Homo sapiens: one gene and its partners. The protein of the gene in region 1 interacts with the protein of each later gene in a pairwise test. Each region holds a gene or a part of one and is shown on either strand. Other genes may lie near its edges.

Region 1 (3,500 bases):
GCAACAGAGCTAGACTCTGTCTCAAAATTAATTAATTCATTAATTAATTAAAAAATCTTAAAAAACAGTAAAAATAACACAACTTTTCTAAGAAACAGAAATAATTGAAAAAAGTTTTAAAAGTTGATAATTTTATCTCATTTTTCTACAAAGTGAAGGCACAAAAACACCTATATTTTTATTTATGTGCTTATATCCTACCTTGTTCCAAAAAGGAGTTAAAAAAGAAAACAGTAAAATAATTTTCATGAAATTTAAATAAAGCAAGTGCTGCCAGTACAGTTATTGCCACTTATACTTTCCCAATAAAAACAATAAATAAGAACTTCAGTGAGCACTAGATGTATTGACATTATTTATAAACATTTACGAGGTATTATTTTATGTGATTAAGCTCTGGAGCCACACTGCTTCTACCACTACTGATTATATGACTTCAGACAAGAAACTTAACTTCTCTATGCTTCTCTGTGCTTCTGTTTCCTCATGTGTAACATCTATTTCATAAGGTTGTTATGAAGCTTAAATGCAATAATATACACAAAGCACTTTAAACAATACCTGGTACATAGCACTCAACAAATGTTACTATTATAACTATCATTTTAAATGCATCATTCTTGTAAACTATTGCTTAGATAAATTATTCAAGTCTTTTTTATTATTATTATTTTTTTTTTTTGAGACTGAGTCTCGCTCTGTCGCCCAGGCTGGAGTGCAGTGGCACCATCTTGGCTCACTGCAAGCTCCACCTCCCGGGTTCATGCCATTCTCCTGCCTCAGCCTCCTGAGTAGCTGGGACTACAGGCACCCGCCACCACGCCCAGCTGATTTTTTTGTATTTTTAGTAGAGATAGGGTTTCACCGTGTTAGCCAAAATGGTCTTGATCTCCTGACCTCGTGATCCGCCCATCTCGGTCTCCCAAAGTGCTGGGACTACAGGCGTAAGCCATGGCCCCGGCCAATTATTCAAGTCTTAAAGCAGCAGTTAATATGAAAATAAGTGATTCAAAAACTGTTCAGTTGATGTAAATGATTTTAACAGTAGACTGCTTTTCCTGGTGGTTTACTGGATTCAAAGCTTATACAAAGATCAAAAAATATATATATATATGTTTTTTAATTGTTTTTTTGAGACAATCTTACTGCTGCCCAGGCTGGAGCGCAGTGATGCAACCTCAGCTCACTTCAGTCTCGACCACCGGGGCTCAAGCAGTCTTCCCACCTCAGCGTCCCAATAGCTGGGACTACAGGCATGCATCACCACGCCAGGCTAATTTTCGTATTTTTTTGTAGAGACGAGATTTCTCCACATTGCCCAGGCTGGTTTTGAACTCCTGAGCTCAAGTGATCCCTTGGCTGGGTGCCATGACTCATACCTGTAATCGCAAAGTGTTGGGATTACAGGCATGAGCCACCGTGCCCAGCCAAGATCAAAGTTATAAAAAGCATTATTCTTCTGCTACTACAGTGCAAAGTTCTTAATAAACCACTCCTAACAGTTTTTTGGAAACCATTGCTAGTTTATCTCACACCGGAGGCCATGATTTTTTAAGGCAGTAACCTTTTAAGTTTTAAGGCAGTAACTTTTTAAGGCAGTATTTTTTTAAGGCAGTTGTAATTAATTAATCACATATTAATTGGAATTCATTATTGGGTAATACAGGATGTGACTGAGAAAACAGTTTCATTACAAGTGTCATTAGGCATTTAAGTTACCATACAAGCTGGTATTACTCAGGGAAATATAAGCAAGTAAGAGCAGTGTATCAGAAAACCTAGTTTCTGATCTGGGCTCTGCCAGCTAAATGTCCTTGAAAAAAAGTTACTCAATCCTGAGACTTGTCTTACAATATATTATACAGGGATACCTGTACCTATACGTTCTAGTCACAGGTTATTAAAAGGAGCCTATGTGACAGGTAATGTGTGTGAGAACACACTGTAAAGCACTATCAGATATCATTAATGATGTGAACTCACTATAAAATTCCATGTGAACTCACTATAAAATTCCTTAGGATAATGGCCTACAGACATATGCATGTTGCTGCACAGGACATGATTGTATTCTTTTTAATGTGTGCGTAGTATTTTATGGTGTATATGTGGCACATATTTCTATCCAATTTATTGATTCACACATAAGTTAAGTCCATGCCTTCCTTATTGTGAATAGCAATATGGCGAATATACAAGTGCATGTGGGGTTTCTTTTTGTGGAATTTTTAATTTTCTTTTGGATATATACTCAGTAATGGAATTGCTGGTTGAATGGTACTTCTGCTTTAAATTCTTTGAATAATCTCCAAACTGCTTTTCACAGTGGCTGAACTAATTTACATTCTCACCAACAGTGTATAAGCATTTCATTTTCTCTGAAGTCTAACCAGAATTTGTTATTTTTTTACTTTTTAATAGTAGCCATTCTGACTAATATTAGATGGCATCCCACATTGATTTGCATTTCTCTGATGATTAGTGATGTTGAACATTAAGAAAACAACCCCATTAAAACATTGACAAGGGACATAAGCAGACACTTCTCAAAGTACAGTACTGTACTACCCTGTAGTACAGTAATGTACTATAGAGTACATTTTAGGTACATTAGATGTACTACAGAGTACATTTTAAAGAGGAAAAGGAGGCACAGAGAGGTTAAATAATTGACCCAAGATCACACAGCTCATAAAATAGCATACCAGGATTTGAATCCAAACTATTCTCTTTACTATTATGCTATATTGTCCCTTATCAGCTATTATAACAATAAACATACAAAACTTTAATTAGGATTGTAATTCTGAAGATAATTCACTGAAAATTAATCAAGTTGTAAACAGTTTAAATTCTAAAATCAATCAATCTCAATGCATATTTAATATTGATAATTTGATACAAAACAAGGCTTGAGAGAACTTTAAAGTCCTAGCTCAGTAATACAAGGCAAGCATGAAATTTCCATTTCACTTACTTGCTTCCACAAAAGCTTTCAAAGCTTCTAGTTGTTCTGCTCCAGATAACTGAATGGCTTTTTCCAGGATCTGACGATACCTACAACAATACCAAATGAAAATAATGTTCTGAGGGTACTATATTTTCTAATGCAAACTTTGATGTGTATTTATTCATTTCTACATACCTTGGTTTCTTTCATAGTACTATAGTTTGTGGTTTTCTTTATAGTATACCACAGATTTTTTTTTAAGTTTCTAGTCTATCACAAGAGATATTAAATCTATAATTATATAAGGTACCACTTCATCTAGTTTTCAGTATAGTATACCAGAATTTTTTAAGTTTTCAAGCTCATCACAAGAAAGAATGAATCTATAATTCTGTTACTGAATCTAAGGTGTCACTTTTTCTTGAAGGTTTTATTTTTGAATTTAAACTACAAAGTCAATTTCCTTTCAAATGCCTTAAAAGATAAGCTATATTTCCTTCAACTGTGCAATACATAGACACACAAAAACATTATTTGAGGTGACCTGAAT
Region 2 (3,500 bases), on another chromosome or scaffold:
TCCTGCCTCAGCCTCCCAAATAGCTGGGATTACAGGCACGCCACCACACCCGGCTAAATTTTTTATTTTTATTTTTGGTATTTTTAGTAGAGATGGGGTTTCACCATGTTGGCCAGGCTGGTCTCAAACTCCTGACTTCAGGTGATCCATCCACCTTGGCATCCCAAGGTGCTGGGATTACAGGCGTGAGCCACCACACCCAGCCGGCAGTAATGTTTTAGTATCCCCCAAATACTCATTTACCCTACTCCACATTATACACACAACAGTGTCAAAATAACAATACGATCAGACTACTACCAGCTAAGCTAAATGTTTTGGCATATATGCCCCTTTTATGGTTGTACTACCTATGTTGTCTGGATATAGCCATTACATACTATATTCTTTTGCTTGTAGCGCTCACTTAGGTTTCTGTGTGTGTGATCTCACTTAGTTTTGATTGTAGCAATATGTTGTTAAAAATACCTTTTAAATTAAGACTAAATGTTTAAAGATCTGTGGGGTTTTTTTTTTTTTTTTTTTTTTTTTTTTTTTGAGACAGGGCCTTGCCCTGTCTCCCAGGCTGGAATGCAGTGGCGCAATCTCAGCCCGCTACAACCTCCACCTCCTGGGCTAAAGTGATCTTTCCACCTCAGCTTCCTGAGTAGCTGGGATTACATTCAGGTGTGCATTGGCACGCCTGGCTAATTTTTGTTTTTTGGAAGTTTTTTGTTGTTGTTTTTTCGGTAGAGAGAGTTTCACCATGTGGCCCAGGCTGGGCTCAAGCTTCTGGGCTCAAGCAGTCTGCCTACCTCAACCTCCCAAAGTGCTGGGATTACAGGTGTGAGCCACCCGGCCTGGTCAAGATCTGTGTTTTAATTGTTAGCGAGAGCTTACCGCCCTGCTTTGTCTCCTGCCTCGCCTTCATATGCCCAAGGTGCACACAAACACATTTTAAAAATCAGTACTTCTCCTTTTACCTACTCAGTATGGATGGCACATCTCAAGTTCTACCCTTAATAAGCTCCTCCACCTCCATTCCCCTCACAGTGATTAGCTCTTTGCCTCAAACTTCTGCAGTATCTCTTTGCCATCGTTTGGTACTTGATTATAATCTTACTTATAGTAATTCTAAACTTACTGAAGGTGTGTACATTTCTACTGCTTGAATTATCTCCTGCTTGAGTATTTCTTTTCCTCCTTGTCTCCCAGTGTTTGCAAAAATTTGAGTGGCTTCTTAAGCTGATTATGAAATTGAAGACACCCGGACCCAAGTAACTTGGAGAACTCTTCTGGCTTGGAGTACAGTTATTTGTGTTGTTTATCCCCCTGGTAAACGGCATGTTCCTTGACTAGGGGACATCTTTCTGCTCCCTTGCTATTCCTGGCATAACGCCTTGTACATAATATGTTTAGTTAAATTTATAAGTATCCCTAATGATAACAGTCATAACAACATTTATTGAAGTTAATTCATCCTGTGCTCTGAACCCTTATATTTAAAAAAAAATTCTGCTGGCCGGGTGCGGTGGCTCACGCCTGTAATCCCAGCACTTTGGGAGGCCGAGGCAGGTGGATCACGAGGTCAGGAGATTGAGACCATCCTGGCTAACATGGTGAAACCCTGTCTCTAGTAAAAATACAAAAAATTAGCTGGGTGTGGTGGCAGGCACCTATAGTCTGAGCTACTCCGGAGGCTGAGGTAGGAGAATGGGGTGAACCCGGGAGCCGGAGCTTGCGGAGTGCCACTGCACTCCAGCCTGGGCAACAGAGTGAGACTCCGTCTCAAAAAAAAAAAAAAAAAAAAAATCTGCTAAGTGGGTACTGTTAATTCCTGTTTTGCAGATGAGGAAATAGAGGCTCAGAAAGGTTAAGTAATGGCACACAAGTACCAGAACATGGGGGGATTGGTACTGGAACCCAGCCACACTACTGCTGCCAGGGCTTTTGAGACTTTAAAAATGACATTGGGTTCTCCCATGGTGATTATTCTTTATGGAAGGGCAGCAAAGGAAATAATAAAGATAAATATGTAGGATAAAGAGAATTTGCCATTATGCTGTATAGTCTCCCTTAAATCTCCTACATAATTTTGGAAGTGTCAACTTGTCAAAATTTGCTTATTTTCACAGTTTGTCTTCCCACCTTTTCATAGCAAATCTGAACCCCTGAGTCTTGATAAGAGTAGTTGAAAAGTTGTGAAGTTTGTTCACTTTCACTTGTTTTTATCAGCTGTTCTTTTTTTAAGCTTTGCACTGTGCTCTGAAGAGTTTCTGTTAATGAATACATGATCCTGAGACAGGGTGATTTTGCTTTGCGTTTAACTTTTGCCAGGAAATGTCCCCACTAGTTTTTCTATGCTTTTTTTGGTGGTAAAATACCTAAGTCTATACTCTCCCCAACACCACATTGCCCCATGAATGTGGTAATGTAGCAATGGAAAGCTAGTGAAGATAATTTAAAATAACTTTTCTATGACCATTTAAAAATATGCTAGGTTTCAAACATTGGTGAAAGCAGAATAATTGTGATCCCTACTTATGATTACCTTGAGATCTGGAATCCTTATTGCTGTAGACTGCTTTTCTTGAAATCTGGTATTGTATTTTTTTTTTTTTTTTTTTTTGAGAGGGAGTCTCGCTCTGTCACTCAAACTGGAGTGCAGTGACACTATCTCAGCTGACTGCGACCTGCCTCCCGGGTTCAAGCAATTCTCCTGCCTCAGCCTCCTGAGTAGCTGGAATTACAGGCGTGTGCCACCACCACACCTGGCTAATTTTTGTATTTTTGGAAGAGACGAGGTTTCACCCTGTTGGTCAGGCTGGTCTCGAACTCCTGACCTTGTGATCCACCTGCCTCGGCCTCCCAAAGTGCTGGAATTACAGGCATGAGCCACCACACCCAGCCTGAAATCTGGTATTGTATTTTTTAAGACTACTTTTACATGTGGATTTATTTTTTTTTAAGACTACTTTTACATGTGGATTTATTTTTAAGGAAGAACAGAAACATATTTGAACTTGATGGGTTAAAGGTAAATTTATTTTTCTTTTTGGGTCCTATGACAATGTATTAGATATGTTATGTGAATGAAATTATCTTGAAGAGTTAATTTTTATTTTTCTTAAGTAAATATTGGCTCTAGTAGACCTCCTTTTGTGCATGTGATTTTTGTTTTGTTTTTGTTTCTTTAAATAAGCAACCCTTCTGTGGGGCTCAATTTTGGAAATCTTGGAAGTACTTCAACTCCAGCAACTACATCTGCTCCTTCAAGTGGTTTTGGAACCGGGCTCTTTGGATCTAAACCTGCCACTGGGTTCACTCTAGGAGGAACAAATACAGGTGAGGAGGATCTGATCACATTGTCAGAGAGTAGGCTTGGGATATTCTTTCCTAAATTGTGTCCTGTATCTCTCTTTACAAGGATCATCACTGGTAGTAGACCTTAAAAAATGGTAAATGCTAAGATGAAAAGAAATGCAAGGAATTGGAATTAAGGGCTAGTGATAGGCCCAATC
Region 3 (3,500 bases), on another chromosome or scaffold:
ATGATGTCAGTATAATGTGGGGGTTGTGTTGGTTCATGATTTTTTCCTAGTCAGAAGAAAGCAGAATAGTGGGAAGAGAATTAAAGCTTTCAGCTGGAAAGAAAAAGCCTTCAGCTTGGCTGTTGTATAAGCAGGATTCTTTTCAGCCAGCATCCAGGGTTCCCTCCTCAGAGAGGCACAACACCAGCCTTGCGCAGCTCTCCATCAAGTGGCAGCTTGCACTTCCCTCCTGTGCCCAACTTAACGGCAACCCCGCTGGCTCAGAGCTCAGGTCTCAGCAGCTTCAAGCCTGCAATTACACTATATTTGCATTTACTATCCCCTGAGGCAGCCTCCAGCCACAGTAAACTGCTTGTCTAGACCATCCAAGTTCTCTCTCCTGGTACCAATTATTGTTTTAGTTAGTGTTAAAATGTTGCAAGGGTTTTGAATCATTTGTCCCAAGCCTATTTGCCCCACCTCCATAACCACTGTAACTTTATAGAGGATGATTTTGCAGAAAGTGAGGTTTTTTTAGGAACACGTGTATCATTTTACAGTAGAAATATTTGTATTAGGGTCCTGTGGCAGGTCTATTGAAGATTATCCAATTAGCTCCCAAATTCCATACCACTAAGCAATCTTCCAATCATTACTTGGCTTCCCAAGTACTTATCTACAGAGACGGTGCATTTGTTTGGGAGCCCAGAACCCAGGTATTCTCCTCCCCTCCCCTCCCCCCTCCCCTCCCCTCCCCCTCCTCTCCCCCATCCCCTCCTCTCTCCTCCCCTCTCCTCTCCTTTTCTTTTTTCTCTTTCTCTCATTCATTCATTCATTCACTCGTTTTGAGACAGAGTCTCACTCTGCTGCCCAGGCTGGAGTGCAGTGGCACAATCTCGGCTCACTGCAACCTCTGCCTCCCAGGTTCAAGTGACTCTCCTGCCTCAGCTCCCAAGTAGCTGGGAATACAGGCACTGGCCACCACGCCCAGCTAGTTTTTGTATTTTTTAGTAGAGACGGGGTTTCGCCATGATGGCCAGGCTGGTCTGGAACTCCTGGCTTCAAGTGATTCGCCCACCTTGGCCTCCCAAAGTGCTGGGATTACAGGCGTGAGCCACTGTGCCCAGCCAGTCCAGGTATTTTCTACTATGTGACTTTGTATGTCTGTTCATTTAAAAATTGGTCTTTAGGTTTATATGTCAGTCTCCTTAAATCTGCTTGATGAGCTCTGCCCCTGATAAATGGAGGTAGTCTCAGTGTGCTAACAGAATCAGGTTTCTGGGCTTGCTGGGCTGAGGGTATTCACTCAAATGGATAACACCTTAGTGAGCCTCTTGGCAGCTGGCTGGACTTGCTCTGGTGATACATCTCTATAATGCTAAGGCCTGTGCCCTCTTTTCTCACTACAACACACCATACAGTGAAACTTTATTAGTTTCAGAGAGAGGCAGCAGAGTGCATGGTTATGAGCCTGGCTGTTAAAGCCAGAATGACTAGATTCGTAGCCTGGCTCCCCTACTTGGTAGCCAGAGCCCTTGGAAATATTATGGAAAATAAATAATTCTCATTATAAACGAATAGATTGGCACTCTGGTTTATATACTAGTCTCTTTGCATTTAGTCTGTGTGTATTACTTCACTACCCCTGAGTAAACTCATACTCAGGGTTTCTAGACCTGCAATCCAGGCACGGCTCCTTATCTGTGCAGCCTGCAGGTGGATAATGTATATGGCTTGATTATCAAATACAAGTGTTGGGCAAGTTACTCAACATCTCTGTGTTTCAGTTTTGTCATTTGCAAAATGAAAATAATAACTACCTACTTCATAGACTGATGTGAAGATTATATGAGATAACAAAATAACTAAATTATTTAAACGGTGCCTGACATATACAAGCACTATAAGTGTTTCCTGTATTCATATGAGTCCTAATTTATATTTGAATAATTCATTCATGTAAGTTATTATATATAATTCTTATAACCACCACATGAAATTGGGCCGATATTATTTACCTCATTTCACTTACAAGGAAACCAAGGCATGTAGAGGTTAAGTGACTTGCCCACAACCATGAGAGAGTACAGACTAAAGTTTAGGCCACATAGGTATTTTTTGCATTTTTTGAAAAACTACCTGGGAAGACATGGACTATTACATTACTCAGATCTCCTCATACAGAGATTTAAATAACAACTTCTTTAGGATTTAATATCTAGGAAAAAATATGTGTTTCCTAAGGAACTTGGATTACTATTAATATCTTTTTCAAAAAATTTATCAGAATTTTATGATTTATCTTGTCACCTTGGTTACTTGTAGTAATAGTTCAAAATGCTGAGGTGCCATAACCATCATCTTTAGATTTCCTTTTTTTTTTTTTTTTTGAGACAGAGTCTCATTCTGTCACCCAGGCTGGAGTGCAGTGGCACAATCTCAGCTCACTGCAACCTCCATCTCCTGGGTTCAAGCGATTCTCTTGCCTCAGCCTCCCAAGTAGCTGGGATTACAGACGCGCACCACCATGCCTGGCTAATTTTTGTATTTTTAGTAGAGACGGGGTTTCACTATGTTGGCCAGGCTGGTCTTGAACTCCTGATCTCGTGATCCACCAGCCTCGGCCTCCCAGAGTGCTGGGATTACAGGCGTGAGCCAACGCACCCGGCCTAGATTTCCTTTTTTAAATATAATTTTCAATATTATTTTAGACTGCTCTGTTACATCTATACCTTTTTTTCTTTTTTTCTATAGCCTCATATTAGAAGTGAACATATATACTTTTTTGGTATTGACTTCAAACTGTGTTTGGTGAGGTAATCTTTTAAAAACACTTTTTTACAACGGAAATTTCAAACATACACAAAAAATGGAACAGGGTATACTTTTTTTAAATATGCAAGGAACGATGGGCACTATAAAGATGTAAAAAACACTGGTTTTTATCTCCAAAGACTGTCTAAAATGTTTACTAAAAGAAATACAGTTTCTTCAGAAATAACTACAGTATGAGGCAGCCTACATTCCTTGCCTTTAGCATGGTACACCCAATAAGTCCTATAGGAGTGCTAAGCTGGGAGAGCATTTTAGTCCTGTAGTCTCTTAGAGAAGGCTCCATGGAGCGGGTAGCATGAAACAGAATTTCAGTAGATTTAGAAAAATGATGAAATGCTTATTTATAGTACTTCCCCCAGCCCCCAGCCCCCAGCCCATCTGTATTAGCCATCTGTATTTGGTTGTATTTGCAGTGCCTAACAATTTGTCACTGGCTGCAATTACCATGCATATCCTTTCATCTTCTAGATCTTTAATTTATTAATTAGGAATAGGTATAATATGGCCACTCATGCCTATCTACCTGACTTCTTAACTTCAAGAAGTGCTTTTGCAGCTTTTGACCCCTTACAGTATACCTCATTTGATATATACTGTAGCAACTTAGAATTCTTTACACAAAATAATGTATTTGATAATCAAGCCATATACAGCATCCACCTGCAGGCTGCACAGACGAGGAGCTG
Region 4 (4,054 bases), on another chromosome or scaffold:
GTTTTACCCTTCTGTACCAATTACTATTTCAACCATGTATCCAGCTTACATTTTTAAGAATATTAATTGAATTTAACATTTTAAAATGCAGACTTGTTGGATTCTTCTCCCATCCATTCTTAGTGCACTTTAAGACTTTCTATAGTGAATATCACTGATGAGCCCTTAGCATCTGTTGCAAACAGTCTCCCTCATTTTGTACCAATGAGGTACTTTGGCTAGGACTGAAACCTTCCCAAGCTTAAGAGGTGGTCCCAGACAGGATTAAAACACAGTAATGGCCAGAGACAGGTCTTTAGATTCTAGGACTAAAATCTCCAACTATAATTCTATACCTCTTGAAACAATGATTGCTTCAGTGGCAGACACATGATCTTACTTGGTCTAATTAGAGTGAAAGTTAGGTTTTTGTTCTATGTTTAGGGATAGACTCTTACTTTCTCTTCCTGGGCTGAAAGAGAAAACAGATAGCTACAGTTGTGGCTACAATAAATTTTGGGAACCTAAGGCAAGTCAGCTTTAGGAATAAGAGTCTGCTTTAAATTAAACTAACTTGCTCATGCTTGTGTACTTATGAATTTTTTTGTAAATTATGAAAAACTGGAACTAAATGATGGGTTTACATAACATGTTCCACCCCAATCTCTTGCTTCATTTTCTGCCTGTTCACAATTCATTGCTATTAAGGAAATCTACAGAAGTGCCTTTTTATGCTGTTGTGTTGACCTATATATGCCTCATCTCATGGTTAATCCAGTTTCATAACTTCAGAAAGGATTTCTGAGATGACCTTTCCTTTACCTTATCACGTAAGGAAAGCCAAGTAGTAATAGAATTTCATTCAGCTTAACAATCACTTATACCCTGCTTGTTTCAGGCTTACAATTGTCTCAGAAACACTATGAATTCCTGGGAGCCAGGGATCACATCTTGTATCTGTGTTTACCACAACTGAACACATTTGGTTGTGAGAAGAGTGGGGAAAGACACTGAATAAATGCTTTAAAACAAAATCATCATCACAAACTATAAAGAATATAAAACGATTATTATGGAAGATAAAATATATTTTTAATTACTTCAACAGAAGGAATTATTTAAACGCAATATTTATTTGCTTCTGGAGGACATTTATGTAAATAAAATTTAGGTAGTGTTCATCAAACTGTGAAAATCTGTGGAGACGCGTGGTGGCGCTGCAGGATAATATCAAGAAAAAAATTACCCTGGAGGATGTTGTAGACCCTGTTATCCAGTACACGCGGAGAACTGGGAAGACAGAAAGAACAATCCTTTAAGGGAGAACCTAGAAGCCATTCAACAAGGTTAAAATCTTCAGGCTTCCGAGGATTTGGTAGACAGATCAGAGGCACGTTTCCCACAACTGCGAAGAGGCGCTGAGGCAATTCTGCAAGAAGATTTTGGGGTTTTGGAAAAGAAGCTATGGAAAACGGAGGGGCAGGCACTCTGCAGATAAGGCAAGTCCTGCTTTTCTTTGTTTTGCTGGGAATGTCTCAGGCGGGCTCTGAAACTGGGAACTTTTTGGTGATGGAGGAATTGCAGAGCGGGAGCTTTGTAGGAAATTTGGCAAAGACCCTGGGACTCGAGGTGAGTGAGCTGTCTTCGCGGGGGGCTCGGGTGGTTTCTAATGATAACAAAGAGTGTTTGCAGCTGGACACAAACACTGGGGATTTGCTCCTGAGAGAAATGCTAGACAGGGAGGAGCTCTGTGGCTCCAATGAGCCTTGTGTGCTGTATTTCCAAGTGTTAATGAAAAACCCCACGCAGTTTTTACAAATTGAGCTCCAGGTCAGGGATATAAATGATCACTCTCCCGTCTTCTTGGAAAAAGAAATGCTCTTAGAAATCCCAGAGAACAGTCCTGTTGGTGCTGTGTTCTTGCTTGAAAGTGCAAAGGATTTAGATGTAGGAATCAATGCTGTAAAAAGCTACACAATAAATCCGAACTCTCATTTCCACGTTAAAATAAGAGTCAATCCAGACAATAGGAAATACCCTGAGTTAGTTCTGGACAAGGCGCTGGATTATGAAGAGCGCCCGGAGCTCAGTTTCATCCTCACTGCTCTGGATGGCGGGTCCCCTCCCAGGTCTGGAACTGCCTTGGTCAGGGTGGTGGTTGTAGATATTAATGACAACTCCCCTGAGTTTGAGCAGGCTTTTTATGAGGTGAAGATTCTGGAGAATAGCATCCTTGGCTCCCTGGTTGTGACCGTCTCAGCCTGGGATTTAGACTCTGGAACAAACAGTGAACTATCCTATACCTTTTCCCATGCCTCAGAAGATATTCGCAAGACATTTGAAATTAATCAAAAGTCTGGTGACATTACTTTAACAGCACCTTTGGATTTTGAAGCAATTGAGTCATACTCAATAATCATTCAAGCCACAGATGGGGGAGGACTTTTTGGAAAATCTACAGTCAGAATTCAGGTGATGGATGTAAACGACAACGCTCCTGAAATCACTGTGTCATCAATTACCAGTCCAATCCCAGAAAACACTCCAGAGACTGTGGTTATGGTTTTCAGGATACGAGACAGAGACTCTGGGGACAACGGAAAGATGGTTTGTTCTATCCCGGAGGACATCCCATTCGTGCTAAAATCTTCGGTAAATAATTACTACACTTTGGAAACAGAGAGACCGCTGGACAGAGAGAGCAGAGCCGAGTACAACATCACCATCACCGTCACCGACTTGGGGACCCCCAGGCTAAAAACCGAGCACAACATAACCGTGCTGGTCTCCGACGTCAATGACAACGCCCCCGCCTTCACCCAAACTTCCTACGCCCTGTTCGTCCGCGAGAACAACAGCCCCGCCCTGCACATCGGCAGCATCAGCGCCACAGACAGAGACTCGGGCACCAACGCCCAGGTCAACTACTCGCTGCTGCCGTCCCAGGACCCGCACCTGCCCCTCGCCTCCCTGGTCTCCATCAACGCGGACAACGGCCACCTGTTTGCCCTCAGGTCGCTGGACTACGAGGCCCTGCAGGGGTTCCAGTTCCGCGTGGGCGCCACAGACCACGGCTCCCCGGCTTTGAGCAGCGAGGCGCTGGTGCGCGTGCTGGTGCTGGACGCCAACGACAACTCGCCCTTCGTGCTGTACCCGCTGCAGAACGGCTCCGCGCCCTGCACCGAGCTGGTGCCCTGGGCGGCCGAGCCGGGCTACCTGGTGACCAAGGTGGTGGCGGTGGACGGTGACTCGGGCCAGAACGCCTGGCTGTCGTACCAGCTGCTCAAGGCCACGGAGCCCGGGCTATTCGGCGTGTGGGCGCACAATGGCGAGGTGCGCACCGCCAGGCTGCTGAGCGAGCGCGACGCGGCCAAGCACAGGCTGGTGGTGCTGGTCAAGGACAATGGCGAGCCTCCGCGCTCGGCCACCGCCACGCTGCACGTGCTCCTGGTGGACGGCTTCTCCCAGCCCTACCTGCCTCTCCCGGAGGCGGCCCCGGCCCAGGCCCAGGCCGACTCGCTCACTGTCTACCTGGTGGTGGCGTTGGCCTCAGTGTCGTCGCTCTTCCTCTTCTCGGTGCTCCTGTTCGTGGCGGTGCGGCTGTGCAGGAGGAGCAGGGCGGCCCCGGTCGGTCGCTGCTCGGTGCCTGAGGGCCCCTTTCCAGGACATCTGGTGGACGTGAGTGGCACCGGGACCCTGTCCCAGAGCTACCACTATGAGGTGTGTGTGACTGGAGGCTCCAGGTCAAATAAGTTCAAATTTCTGAAACCAATTATCCCCAACTTCCTACCCCAGAGCACAGGTAGTGAAGTCGAAGAAAATCCCCCATTTCAGAATAATTTGGGTTTCTGATAAAGAATGAAAAATAAAACCTGTGTTTATGAATACATTTATAATTAGGAACTTATCGTGAGGTGCCTGTAAAGTAGTATTTTTGATCACTTCAAATACATACTCTTCAAGTCAAGAAATAAATTTCTTTACATAGAAAAGGATACAGATTTAGTACCAAGAACACTTCACAAAGCAGGAAATGTGCATGTGTAATGGTTTATGTCAAACAATTATGCTTAAT
Region 5 (3,500 bases), on another chromosome or scaffold:
CCCACTCTATGTGTTCAGCTGGGGTGGTGAGCACAGGCTCAGCTGAGTGGAATACAGTGAATGAGTTCTTAGATCACCTAATCCCTTCCCATACAGCTGCCCTTAGCACCTAGGCCTGGCCTGTGACTACCACAGGGCTCGCCCTTGTTCCAGTTCACCCTCACTCCTGTCAGTGGTGCTCAGATTTGAGAACTGAGGGCATTTACTGAGAAGAGGCTGGCCCGGTCCTTCCTGTTTCAAGTCTGGGTTTAGCTGTCTTGAGGGCTGGTGCCTGTTCTGTTCATTCAGCTTCCCTCTGATGATGCGTGGCAGAGTGTGGGAGGACACGTGCCTAGCATTTTTACAATATGCCTTTTCTTTTAGCCCTGAATCTACCGTGTCGAGGGCATTCTTTTGTGTATCTGGTGGCTCTTAGGAGTTTGGGATCTAATAGTACCTGGGAATTCAGAAATACCTCTGCTCTAACACCAGGCAGTCAGAATCCTCGTAGAAGGACATTGTGTTCTTATAACCCTCAGCTTTCTCCTTCCTTTTGTTTTAGTTAATACACAAAATTATTGACCTAGGATATGCCAAGGAGCTGGATCAGGGCAGTCTTTGCACATCATTCGTGGGGACCCTGCAGTACCTGGTAAGAAGTGGGCCTTGCCTGTTTGCCTGTCAGCTCCTCCCTGCTGCTGCATTTGTGGGGCTCCTGTCCTGCCTTGCTCCCAGCACCTGAGTCCCACCGGCTCTCTGAATGTTTTGGAGATGCATGAGGTCACACCCATAACCTGGTCGAGTCAGCATTTTTTGCCACCAGATGCCCTGTGGAGGGATGTGGTCGTCTTCTCTGATGTCCGGAGGGCTCTGCTCATGCGCCTTGCACCATCCCCTAGCCTCTCTGTGCTTCAGTGTCTTCTCTGAAAGGAAAGGGTTTTAAACAGATCCATGCTGGTCTTGAGCGGTCCTCCCACCTCAGCCTCCTGAGCAGCTAGGACTACAGGCAGGAGCCACTGAGCCTGGCCGAGGCCACACTTTCCATGAGGTATTTCAGGGGCCACTGAGTAGGGGTCAGAGCTCTGAGCTCCCCACCCTTTGTTTACGTTATTTGGTCTGAATATTAGGTTTCTGTTTGAGTCACTCATTCATTCAAGCATATTGATGGAGTGTAGTCTGTGTCAGGCACTGTGCTCAGGGCTGGTGATGCAGTGGGGAAAAAAGACAAGCCCTTTTCGGCCTTCAGAGCTTAGGGTTTAGCAGGAAAGCAAGCATTACTGTGATGCTTACACAGATAACTAAGAAATTACAGTTGTGGTGAGTGTTACAAAGCAAGAGTGCAGGGTGTTGCAAGAATATATATTGGGTGGCCTCAGCCTGGTCTGGGACTTGAAGGGTAAGGAGGTGAAAAGGGCTGGAGGTGGGGGACGGCAGGGGGAATTCCGTGCAAAGGGATCACACACAGGAAGACCTGCAGGTGTGGCTGGAACCGAGCACAAAAGGGAAAGAGAGTCTTGAGTTGAAGCTGAGAACAAGGTAGAGCACAGATTATGAAGGGCCTTCAGGGCTGGGCTAAAGTTCTAGACTTTATCTTAAAACCTCTGCAGAGATTGATGGGTTTTAAGTGGGAGAAGGAGCAACTCTTTGGAAAGCCCACTCCTGACACTGTGTGGAGAAGGAATCACACTGAACAGGAGGGAAGAGTGGGTGAGGTAGGGGCAGTGAAGATGTAGAGGGCAATTAGATTCCAGGAGGGCTTAGCACAAATGCCCAGCAAGACTTGTCATAGGTTGCTTGATGATGGCAGTAGCCACCACAATTGGGAGTGACTCAAGGAGTCTGCGGCTTTCAGAGTGGGTCTCACAGAGGGCTGTGATTCAGGCGCCTGTGTCCATATGGCATGTGATTTGGTAGATCCTTCTGGAGTCCTCCTCAGCTCAGCAGCAGTCGAGCAAGGGGGACCCCATGCTCTAACCAGGAGCTGAGTCAAGTCATGTACTCACATGAGCTAAAACGTCTGCCCATAACCAGACATAGAGGTTGACCTACCCATCCCGGAATGTCTTCTCTTGGTTTGGTCTCCCGGGCCCTTCCTTAAGCTTCACATTTCCAACCAGACCATGCACCACCCTGTCTCTGTGCTTTTGCTTGCCCCAGTCATTTCTGTCTCCACCCACCTGCTAAGCCCAGTCTGCACCCCCAGCACCCCGTGCTGCCGCCCCTTCTTCGGTCACCCCAGCGCTCTCTGCCTCAGCAGCAGCCATGCATCACACTTTCCCTGCCTGTTTCTAAATATCCTGGCCCTTTCTGCAACCACATGGTACCTGGTTCAGGGGTTCAACCAGCACTTAATGCGTGTATTTGGTGTGGACAGCCTGGCATCATTTTCCTTTAACATTTGTAGCCTCTCTTCCCATTTCTACACAGTGCCCACGACTGTGTCCTGCCTTAAGCTAGTTTTCAATAAGCGCCTGAAATGCTGCAACCCTTTTTTTTTTTTTCCTTTTTTTTCTTTCTTTCTTTCTTTTTTTTTTTTAGACAGAGTCTCACTCTGTTGCCCAGGCTGGAGTGCAGTGGCATGATCTTGGCTCACTGCAACCTCCACTTCCCAGGTTCAAGCGATTCTTGTGCCTCAGCCTCCTGAATAGCTGGGACTAAAGGTGCACACCACCATGCCCAGCTAATTTTTGTATTTTTAGTAGAGACGGGGTTTCACCATGTTGGCCAGGCTGGTCTCAAACTCCTGACCTCAAGTAATGCGCCTACCTCGGCCTCCCAAAGTGCTGGGATTACACGTGTGAGCCACTGCGTCCAGCCTGCAACCCTCAGTTTTAAAGGAGAGAAGTTAAAGCCTAGCGATGGGTGTGTGATGTACTCTGGCCCTGAATCTTTAGCCCCTCCATCAGTACCTACTGGAGTGAGTGGGACATAGAAAGGTCTTAGAAATGGTAGCATGATATACCCGCTAAACATGCCTGGGGTGCCCTCCTCGCCCTGCATGCATGTGCCAGTGCCCTCTAGGATGAAGCCAGGGGTGAAAGCAGATGGGCTGGCCGCCCCCTCCTGCCGTGGTCCCCCCAGAGAGGAGCAGCTCAGGTGTACCCCCTCCTGTTGCTGCAGGCCCCAGAGCTACTGGAGCAGCAGAAGTACACAGTGACCGTCGACTACTGGAGCTTCGGCACCCTGGCCTTTGAGTGCATCACGGGCTTCCGGCCCTTCCTCCCCAACTGGCAGCCCGTGCAGTGGTGAGTGGGCCCGGGGCACCTGGATGGAGGAGGGAGCCTGTCTGTTCCTTTCTCTTCACGTACCCTGTTTCCCTGGCGCCCCATCACCGGGCCTGGGAGATCTGTGTTGTTTCTCTTCCGAGAGGAAGGCCTGTCAGGACCTAGCACGAGTAGGGGAGTGGTCTGTGCTCCAAGGACCTGTTAATAGATAGAGTAGCTGTTAAGTCTTCATGTGGATTCTGAGCCTTCACATCTTTAAATACAATGCTGTGTCAGTGTCATCTGCTCTGTGTTCAG
Region 6 (3,155 bases), on another chromosome or scaffold:
TTTTGTATTTTTAGTAGAGGTGGGATTTTGCTATGTTGGCCAGGCTGGTCTTGAATTCCCGACCTCAGGTCATCTGCCCATGGCCTCCCAAAGTGCTGGGATTACAGGTGTGAGCCACTGTGCCTGGACTGTTCTGGTTTTTTAAAACTGAAAGTCCAGTGTCCAGGAGCCACTCTGTCCTGGGAGCCGCAACTGTGGGCCATCCTCCTGGGCTGATGCCCTAGTGGGCCTTGCATGGGGTGTCCTTGTTTCCCTGCTGGGCTGGATTTGTTGGGAGCTGGGTGAGTGGGAGGGTGCAGGTGGGCTTTTCACTAGGGTCCAGGATGGGGTGCAGAGGGGTCTTGCGGCTCCAGCCAGAAGACCCCATTTTCCAAGCCACCCAACTTCCCGGTTTTCCCTGAGGAAAAGAACATGTCCTGGAAAGAGATGTGGCGCTGGCAGAGGCCAGAGCATTGTCATTAGGAGACAGCCTCCATTTTCCCTAACCGAGACCAGTGCCTTGGAGGCTGGGGATGGAGGCCAGGCCATCGGGTGACCGTGGGGGCCAAGAAAACTGCACATGGAATTTCTTGTTAGCGTTTAGGATGCTGGTGAATAAAGCAGGCCGTGGTGTGTGCCCCACTCAAGTGGGGTCTGTGGTGGGAGAGTTGTGTCTAAGGCCCCTGCTGGGGGACAGCCCTGCGGGCAGGGCTTTGTCCTCTTGGCTCAGGCAGAGATGGGCCTGCCTGTTGGAGAGCTCTGTCTCTGAGCCGTTGCCAAGTGGACCTGACCTCCCAGGTCCCTCCTGGAATTGGCTTTGGTTTGGGCTGGCTGCTGGCCCAGGAACGGAGTACGGAGCAGAAGGGAGAGCTGCCTCTTCTGCGTTGAAAGTGTTGAGCTCAGAAGTTTTCTAGCAAAGGGCATAACCACCGCCCTTTTGGTTCTGATGTGTCTGACCCCCTGCCAGTGGCCAGGGCTCCCTGCCTCCACCTTTTGCTCAGGCCATAGACAAATGAGGACTGTGGCTCAGGTGTCTGGAGTCCCCAGTCATAGCCCTTTTGGACTCCTCACCAACCTGTCTCTCTCCTGGCCACTGGGTTGGAGGCAGGGATGGTGCTGAGGATCAGAAGGAAGCAGGCTCCCGCATGGCAGGCAGGCCCCACTTGGCTTCCAGCAGCTGCCCAGGCAGATGGGCCTTGCCCAGGGTGGGGGCCCGGGGGGACCCTGGGCTGTCTGTGGGGGCACAGGACCCGCTTGGCATCTATCTCAGCTGTAGGATCTTTGCTCCTGAAAGGAGGGGTGGAAGGGCTCCATCCTGTCCCTTGCCCAGTGTCCCTGGGGGAGCAGCTCACCATCGCCGAGCCCTTGCGGGTCAGGGAAGGCGTGGCCCTTCGAAGGGGGGCGTCCTGAATGCCGCCACCAACCTCCTCCCCTTCTTCTCCCTCTAGGAGGCAGTTCCCTCCATCCCCATCAGCCCCGAAGATCCCCTCCTGGCAGATCCCAGTCAAGTCACCGTCACCCTCCAGCCCTGCGGCCGTGAACCACCACAGCAGCAGCGACATCTCACCTGTCAGCAACGAGTCCACGTCGTCCTCGCCTGGGAAGGAGGGCCACAGCCCCGAGGGCTCCACGGTCACCTACCACTTGCTGGGCCCCCAGGAGGAAGGCGAGGGGGTGGTGGACGTCAAGGGCCAGGTGCGGATGGAGGTGCAAGGCGAGGAGGAGAAGAGGGAGGACAAGGAGGACGAGGAGGATGAGGAGGATGATGATGTGAGCCATGTGGACGAGGAGGACTGCCTGGGGGTGCAGAGGGAGGACCGCCGGGGCGGGGATGGGCAGATCAACGAGCAGGTGGAGAAGCTGCGGCGGCCCGAGGGCGCCAGCAACGAGAGTGAGCGGGACTAGGGCTGCGCCTGCTGCCTCCAGCCCTGAGGATGGCATCTAGTGTGCCCGTGCGTGGCCATACCCTGCCTCCCTCTCTGGCCCTGGGAGGGCAGCTTGGAGCCCAGGTAGGGGGCAGAGCTGTCCTCAGCTGCACTGCGGCCTGGTGGCAGTGTGGGGAGTCACACTTCTGTCCACCTGGCCTCCTCTCGCCTGGCCGCCAGCCCCAGCCCCAGCCCCAGCCCCAGGCCCAGCTGCCTTTGGCTTTGATCTCAAGTCAGGCTGAAGGCAGCGAAGCCTCGGGGCCCAAGCCCCTCCCCAGCCCCCTCTCCCGGACAGACGCCTTGCCCAGGGTGTGTTTGCTGAGTGTCTTGACTACCGTGACACCACGCATGGCCAGAGCTAGCGTCCCTACTGCCTCCCGACTCCTCAGTGGAGGAGGAGCTGCGGTCCCTCTGGTGTCTGCCATCCCCCTCCCTCCCTGGGCCCGGCCCTGGACCCGTCAGGTGCCTGTCCCCAGCCCCAACCCCACTCATGCCCCGTCGTCCTCCCAGACAAATGAAACCACGCTGCGCTTCCGATGCCCCCGCTTGCCGTGTAATGGTTCAGCTAATCCCATGGCGAGATGGGGGCTCACTCCGGAGGAGGAGCCAGGCAGCAGGGCCTTCCTGACCAACAGCCAGCTCTGTCCTTCCCCCCAGGAAACACATGTTCATTTGTGTGATCATGTATAGACCTCAGAACGGAAGATAGGACTGTATATAATTGTAATAAATACCAGTTGCCACTATTTAATTTCTGCCTGTGGCTCCCTGTCTGCTCATGGCACCCTGGGCCCGGGGGTTCGTCTCAGCGCAGCCTCCAGCTGGTGAAGTGTGGGTGAGGGCCCATGGGCAGCTTCCGCCGCTGCTGAGCCAGAAGCAGAGGCCTTGTTCAGGTCCAGTGGCTGCCGGAGGGCGACACTTTGCTGACCGCAGGAGGATCAGGGACCTCGTGTGACTGTATATAGACCTCATGTGGAGTGAGGAGCTCTTCCTTAAATGGACGAATGCTTCCCGGGGAGGGGAGTGTGGCGTCCTCTCTGGCTCCCTGTCTCCCCTGGCTCTTTTCCTCCCAGTCTCCCTTTCCCCTTCACAGAGCATTTGGCTAAAACCAGAAGAGCAGAGCCATGGGCTCCTTGAGGGGCGCTCCTATTCCCTGCAGCCCCCAAGTGTCAGGACCAGGCTCGTGGGCCGCAGGCGCCGTGATGTCCATGTGCCTGTGTGGACACAAGGGCTTCGGAAATAGGAAGCCCT
Region 7 (2,787 bases), on another chromosome or scaffold:
AACATTACCTTTTTTTTTTTAATCTAGAGCTTTTCTGGAAAAAGAAGAAAAGTTCAACCACCTCAAGTAAGTTACTGCATTTTCATTTTGGTTTCTGAAATAGTTTGATTAGTTTTATACCTTTCTTATTAATAAAAGTTTCTACTATGGTTGCTTTTAGGTCATACCCTGGTAAAATTTAGGACTGAAGAAAAGGGCAGTATAAACTAATACAGTTGAATAGAAAAATTATTTTAAGGGCATGGAATGACTCAGATAGGTTAAATAAATAAAACCTTTGTCCTGCTTTTAGTAGTACAAGGATGTGTCATTCACAAAGTGCTTAAAAATAGTAAGTGCTCAAGTAATTTCAGTCTCCCCCCATCCCTTCCTTTTGTGAACACTTCTAATTAGCAGCACCTAGATCAAAAAGGGTGTTTGGCAGAGTTTGACTTCAGCCAGCCCTGTCTAAAGTGCTACTTTACTAATTAGTTGAACCTTAAATAGTAAGGCTTTGCTAGAATTTAACAGTGGTAATGTGAATTTAAAGTTGGAGAAAACTTTCTGATTTTTAAGAGTAGCATATTTTTTTCTTGTAAAATTCTGAGTAAGTTTTTTGATAGCAGCTATTTTTTCCCGAAGTAAATTATTATAGTTGATCCCTCAAGAGAGAATTTCTAAGTATTTTAAGCAGCTATTTTTAAAGTTAACTAACTTTTTTTACTATTGATTATGAGAATAATCAGGTTTTTAAAAGTTATTCTCTTATGTAGTAAACTGTAACACTTCGTTGCTGCTTTAAAAATACAATTCACATAACATAAAATTCATCATTTTAAAGTGGCTATTAGTATATTCACTATGTTGTGCAACCATCACCACTAAGTCTAGAACATTTCCATCACTGCCCCCCCAAAACCCTGTATCTATTAGCACTCAGTCCCAATTTCCCCTTCTCTTTACCCCCTAATAGCCACTACATAATACTTGTGTCTAAATTAGAAATATTAATATATAAGTGAGGGTGTTCACATAGGTAGACTTGAATAAATCCAATTTTTATTGGAAGGTAAAAGAAGTATTTTCTTCACTATTTTCCACTTCAGGTTAACTTTAGTAATCAACATAGAAAGTTTTCCATTAAAAGGGATAGTTGATGTCTCAAATGATTTTTTTCTCCTGGTAGTAGTATAATTAGCATTTTTCTTCTTCTTTCCAACTTTTACTTAAGCTCAAGGGTTTTTCAGCTTTGTTACATGGGTAAATTGCATGTCATGGGGGTTTGGTGTACAGATAATTTTGTCACCCAGGCAATCAGCATAATACCCAATAGGCAGTTTTTCAGTCCTCTCCCTCCTCCCATCTTCAAATAGGCTCCAGTGTCTAATAATCAGGCTTTTTTTTTTTTTTTAACTTATTCTTTCTAAGTATAAAAGGTTCAGGAGAGCTTAGTCATTAGAAAAGAGAAAAAGAAATATTTAAGCCTTGTTATTTTATGCCTTTAAATTTATGATATAGTCAACATATATAGTTGCTCAGTTTTAAGATTATTCTCATGAGGGAAAAAAACCATTTGATCATGCTTTTGAATATTTTAAATATTTATAGTTCATTTGGCACTTTATCTGCATTAAGATACTTCAGAATCTTATTCAGCAATTTGTGTCGTTATTGTTTACAGCAGAACTATTCACTGGCTGAACTTGATGAGAAAATTAGTGCCCTCAAACAAGCCCTCCTCAGAAAATCAAGAGAAGCAGAATCCATGGCAACCCACCACCTTCCATGAAAAACTCCTCTCATCCTTGTCATTTTACTTTTTTGTATACATATGTGTAACTTACACTGTTATTAATTCAACGGATATATATTTATCAATGTAGACTTCTCTGTGAAGTCAAGGTTTATTTTCACATGAGTCCAGCTTGCAGCAAGTAATCTTCAAATATTCCAGTAAGTTTTGAAATAATGAATGCATTGAAAATAGCATTGTTGGAATTTATTCCCTTCTGTTTTAAAGGAGGTATTTTGGAAATTGAAAAACTTAATTTACAAGTGCTGGTACATCTTTTTTCTTTTGTGGACCACAGGAAGGAAGATTTATTTTGATATTGATACTTTAAAAGGACTTTATATTTGTAACATTGATGTTAACCAGTTTATTAGTTTAAATCAGTACTTTGCATATAATAAGCATTCAACAAAAATTTATTGACTGAAATGAATTTTAAATGCATGTGTATGAACTTGTTTTTCTTAATCTTTAAGATGTCAGTATTCATGTAAATAAACAATAGATCCAGCTTTATCCCTTTGACGGTGTGACTTTGATCAATTTACTTAATCTGTCTTTGTTCTTATTTCCCAGTCTGTGAAATGGGAATGACAATAGTAGAGACTACCTTATTGATTGTTACGAAGAAGAGGTGAGATCTTGCATGTTTGAAACTGTCTGTCCCAAGGGAATTGCTCAGTAGATGTTAGCTAATATTATAAAACCAGGTCTGTTTTTGGACAGCAATTAGGATATTACAAAGAAATTATAGTACCTCTCTTTTGAGAGCCTCCCCTTTACAATACCCCAGTTACATTAGGCAGTACATACATTACCACAGTTATAAATTAAACATTTGAAAGATGCAGCTACAGTTATGTGGAAATTCTTTCATGGAGCAGTTGTTCAGGTCAATAATTGTTTGGTGGTTCACTCCTGTAATCTCAGCACTTTGGGAGGCTGAGGTAGGAGGATCACTTGACCCCAGAAGGTCAAGGCTGCAGTGATGCACTGTATTCCAGCCTGGGTGACAG

Evidence for each region.
Region 2: the proteins of COPS4 (region 1) and NUP58 interact in binary tests that used the Homo sapiens proteins (3 or more experiments, as listed by UniProt).
Region 3: the proteins of COPS4 (region 1) and HEMGN interact in a two-hybrid assay, tested with the Homo sapiens proteins (one study listed by BioGRID).
Region 4: the proteins of COPS4 (region 1) and PCDHB12 interact in binary tests that used the Homo sapiens proteins (3 or more experiments, as listed by UniProt).
Region 5: the proteins of COPS4 (region 1) and IKBKB interact in a two-hybrid assay, tested with the Homo sapiens proteins (one study listed by BioGRID).
Region 6: the proteins of COPS4 (region 1) and PEX14 interact in binary tests that used the Homo sapiens proteins (3 or more experiments, as listed by UniProt).
Region 7: the proteins of COPS4 (region 1) and MBIP interact in a two-hybrid assay, tested with the Homo sapiens proteins (one large-scale study listed by BioGRID and IntAct).

Annotation. Positions count from the first base shown.
Region 1 is NC_000004.12:83,045,183-83,048,682, reverse strand, and holds part of COPS4 (COP9 signalosome complex subunit 4), read right to left. Parts: intron 3,058-3,500; coding exon 2,978-3,057; intron 1-2,977. UniProt on the Homo sapiens protein: Component of the COP9 signalosome complex (CSN), a complex involved in various cellular and developmental processes.
Region 2 is NC_000013.11:25,304,625-25,308,124, forward strand, and holds part of NUP58 (nucleoporin p58/p45), read left to right. Parts: intron 1-2,979; exon of another isoform or gene 2,980-3,016; intron 3,017-3,181; coding exon 3,182-3,324; intron 3,325-3,500. UniProt on the Homo sapiens protein: Component of the nuclear pore complex, a complex required for the trafficking across the nuclear membrane.
Region 3 is NC_000009.12:97,931,673-97,935,172, reverse strand, and holds part of HEMGN (hemogen), read left to right. Parts: intron 1-3,500. UniProt on the Homo sapiens protein: Regulates the proliferation and differentiation of hematopoietic cells. Overexpression block the TPA-induced megakaryocytic differentiation in the K562 cell model. May also prevent cell apoptosis through the activation of the nuclear factor-kappa B (NF-kB).
Region 4 is NC_000005.10:141,207,465-141,211,518, forward strand, and holds the start of PCDHB12 (protocadherin beta-12 precursor), read left to right. Parts: upstream 1-1,254; 5' UTR 1,255-1,443; coding exon 1,444-3,831; 3' UTR 3,832-4,054. UniProt on the Homo sapiens protein: Potential calcium-dependent cell-adhesion protein. May be involved in the establishment and maintenance of specific neuronal connections in the brain.
Region 5 is NC_000008.11:42,305,802-42,309,301, forward strand, and holds part of IKBKB (inhibitor of nuclear factor kappa-B kinase subunit beta), read left to right. Parts: intron 1-541; coding exon 542-631; intron 632-3,099; coding exon 3,100-3,224; intron 3,225-3,500.
Region 6 is NC_000001.11:10,628,104-10,631,258, forward strand, and holds the end of PEX14 (peroxisomal membrane protein PEX14), read left to right. Parts: intron 1-1,427; coding exon 1,428-1,884; 3' UTR 1,885-2,655; downstream 2,656-3,155. UniProt on the Homo sapiens protein: Component of the PEX13-PEX14 docking complex, a translocon channel that specifically mediates the import of peroxisomal cargo proteins bound to PEX5 receptor.
Region 7 is NC_000014.9:36,298,064-36,300,850, reverse strand, and holds the end of MBIP (MAP3K12-binding inhibitory protein 1), read left to right. Parts: intron 1-27; coding exon 28-66; intron 67-1,660; coding exon 1,661-1,768; 3' UTR 1,769-2,287; downstream 2,288-2,787. UniProt on the Homo sapiens protein: Inhibits the MAP3K12 activity to induce the activation of the JNK/SAPK pathway. Component of the ATAC complex, a complex with histone acetyltransferase activity on histones H3 and H4.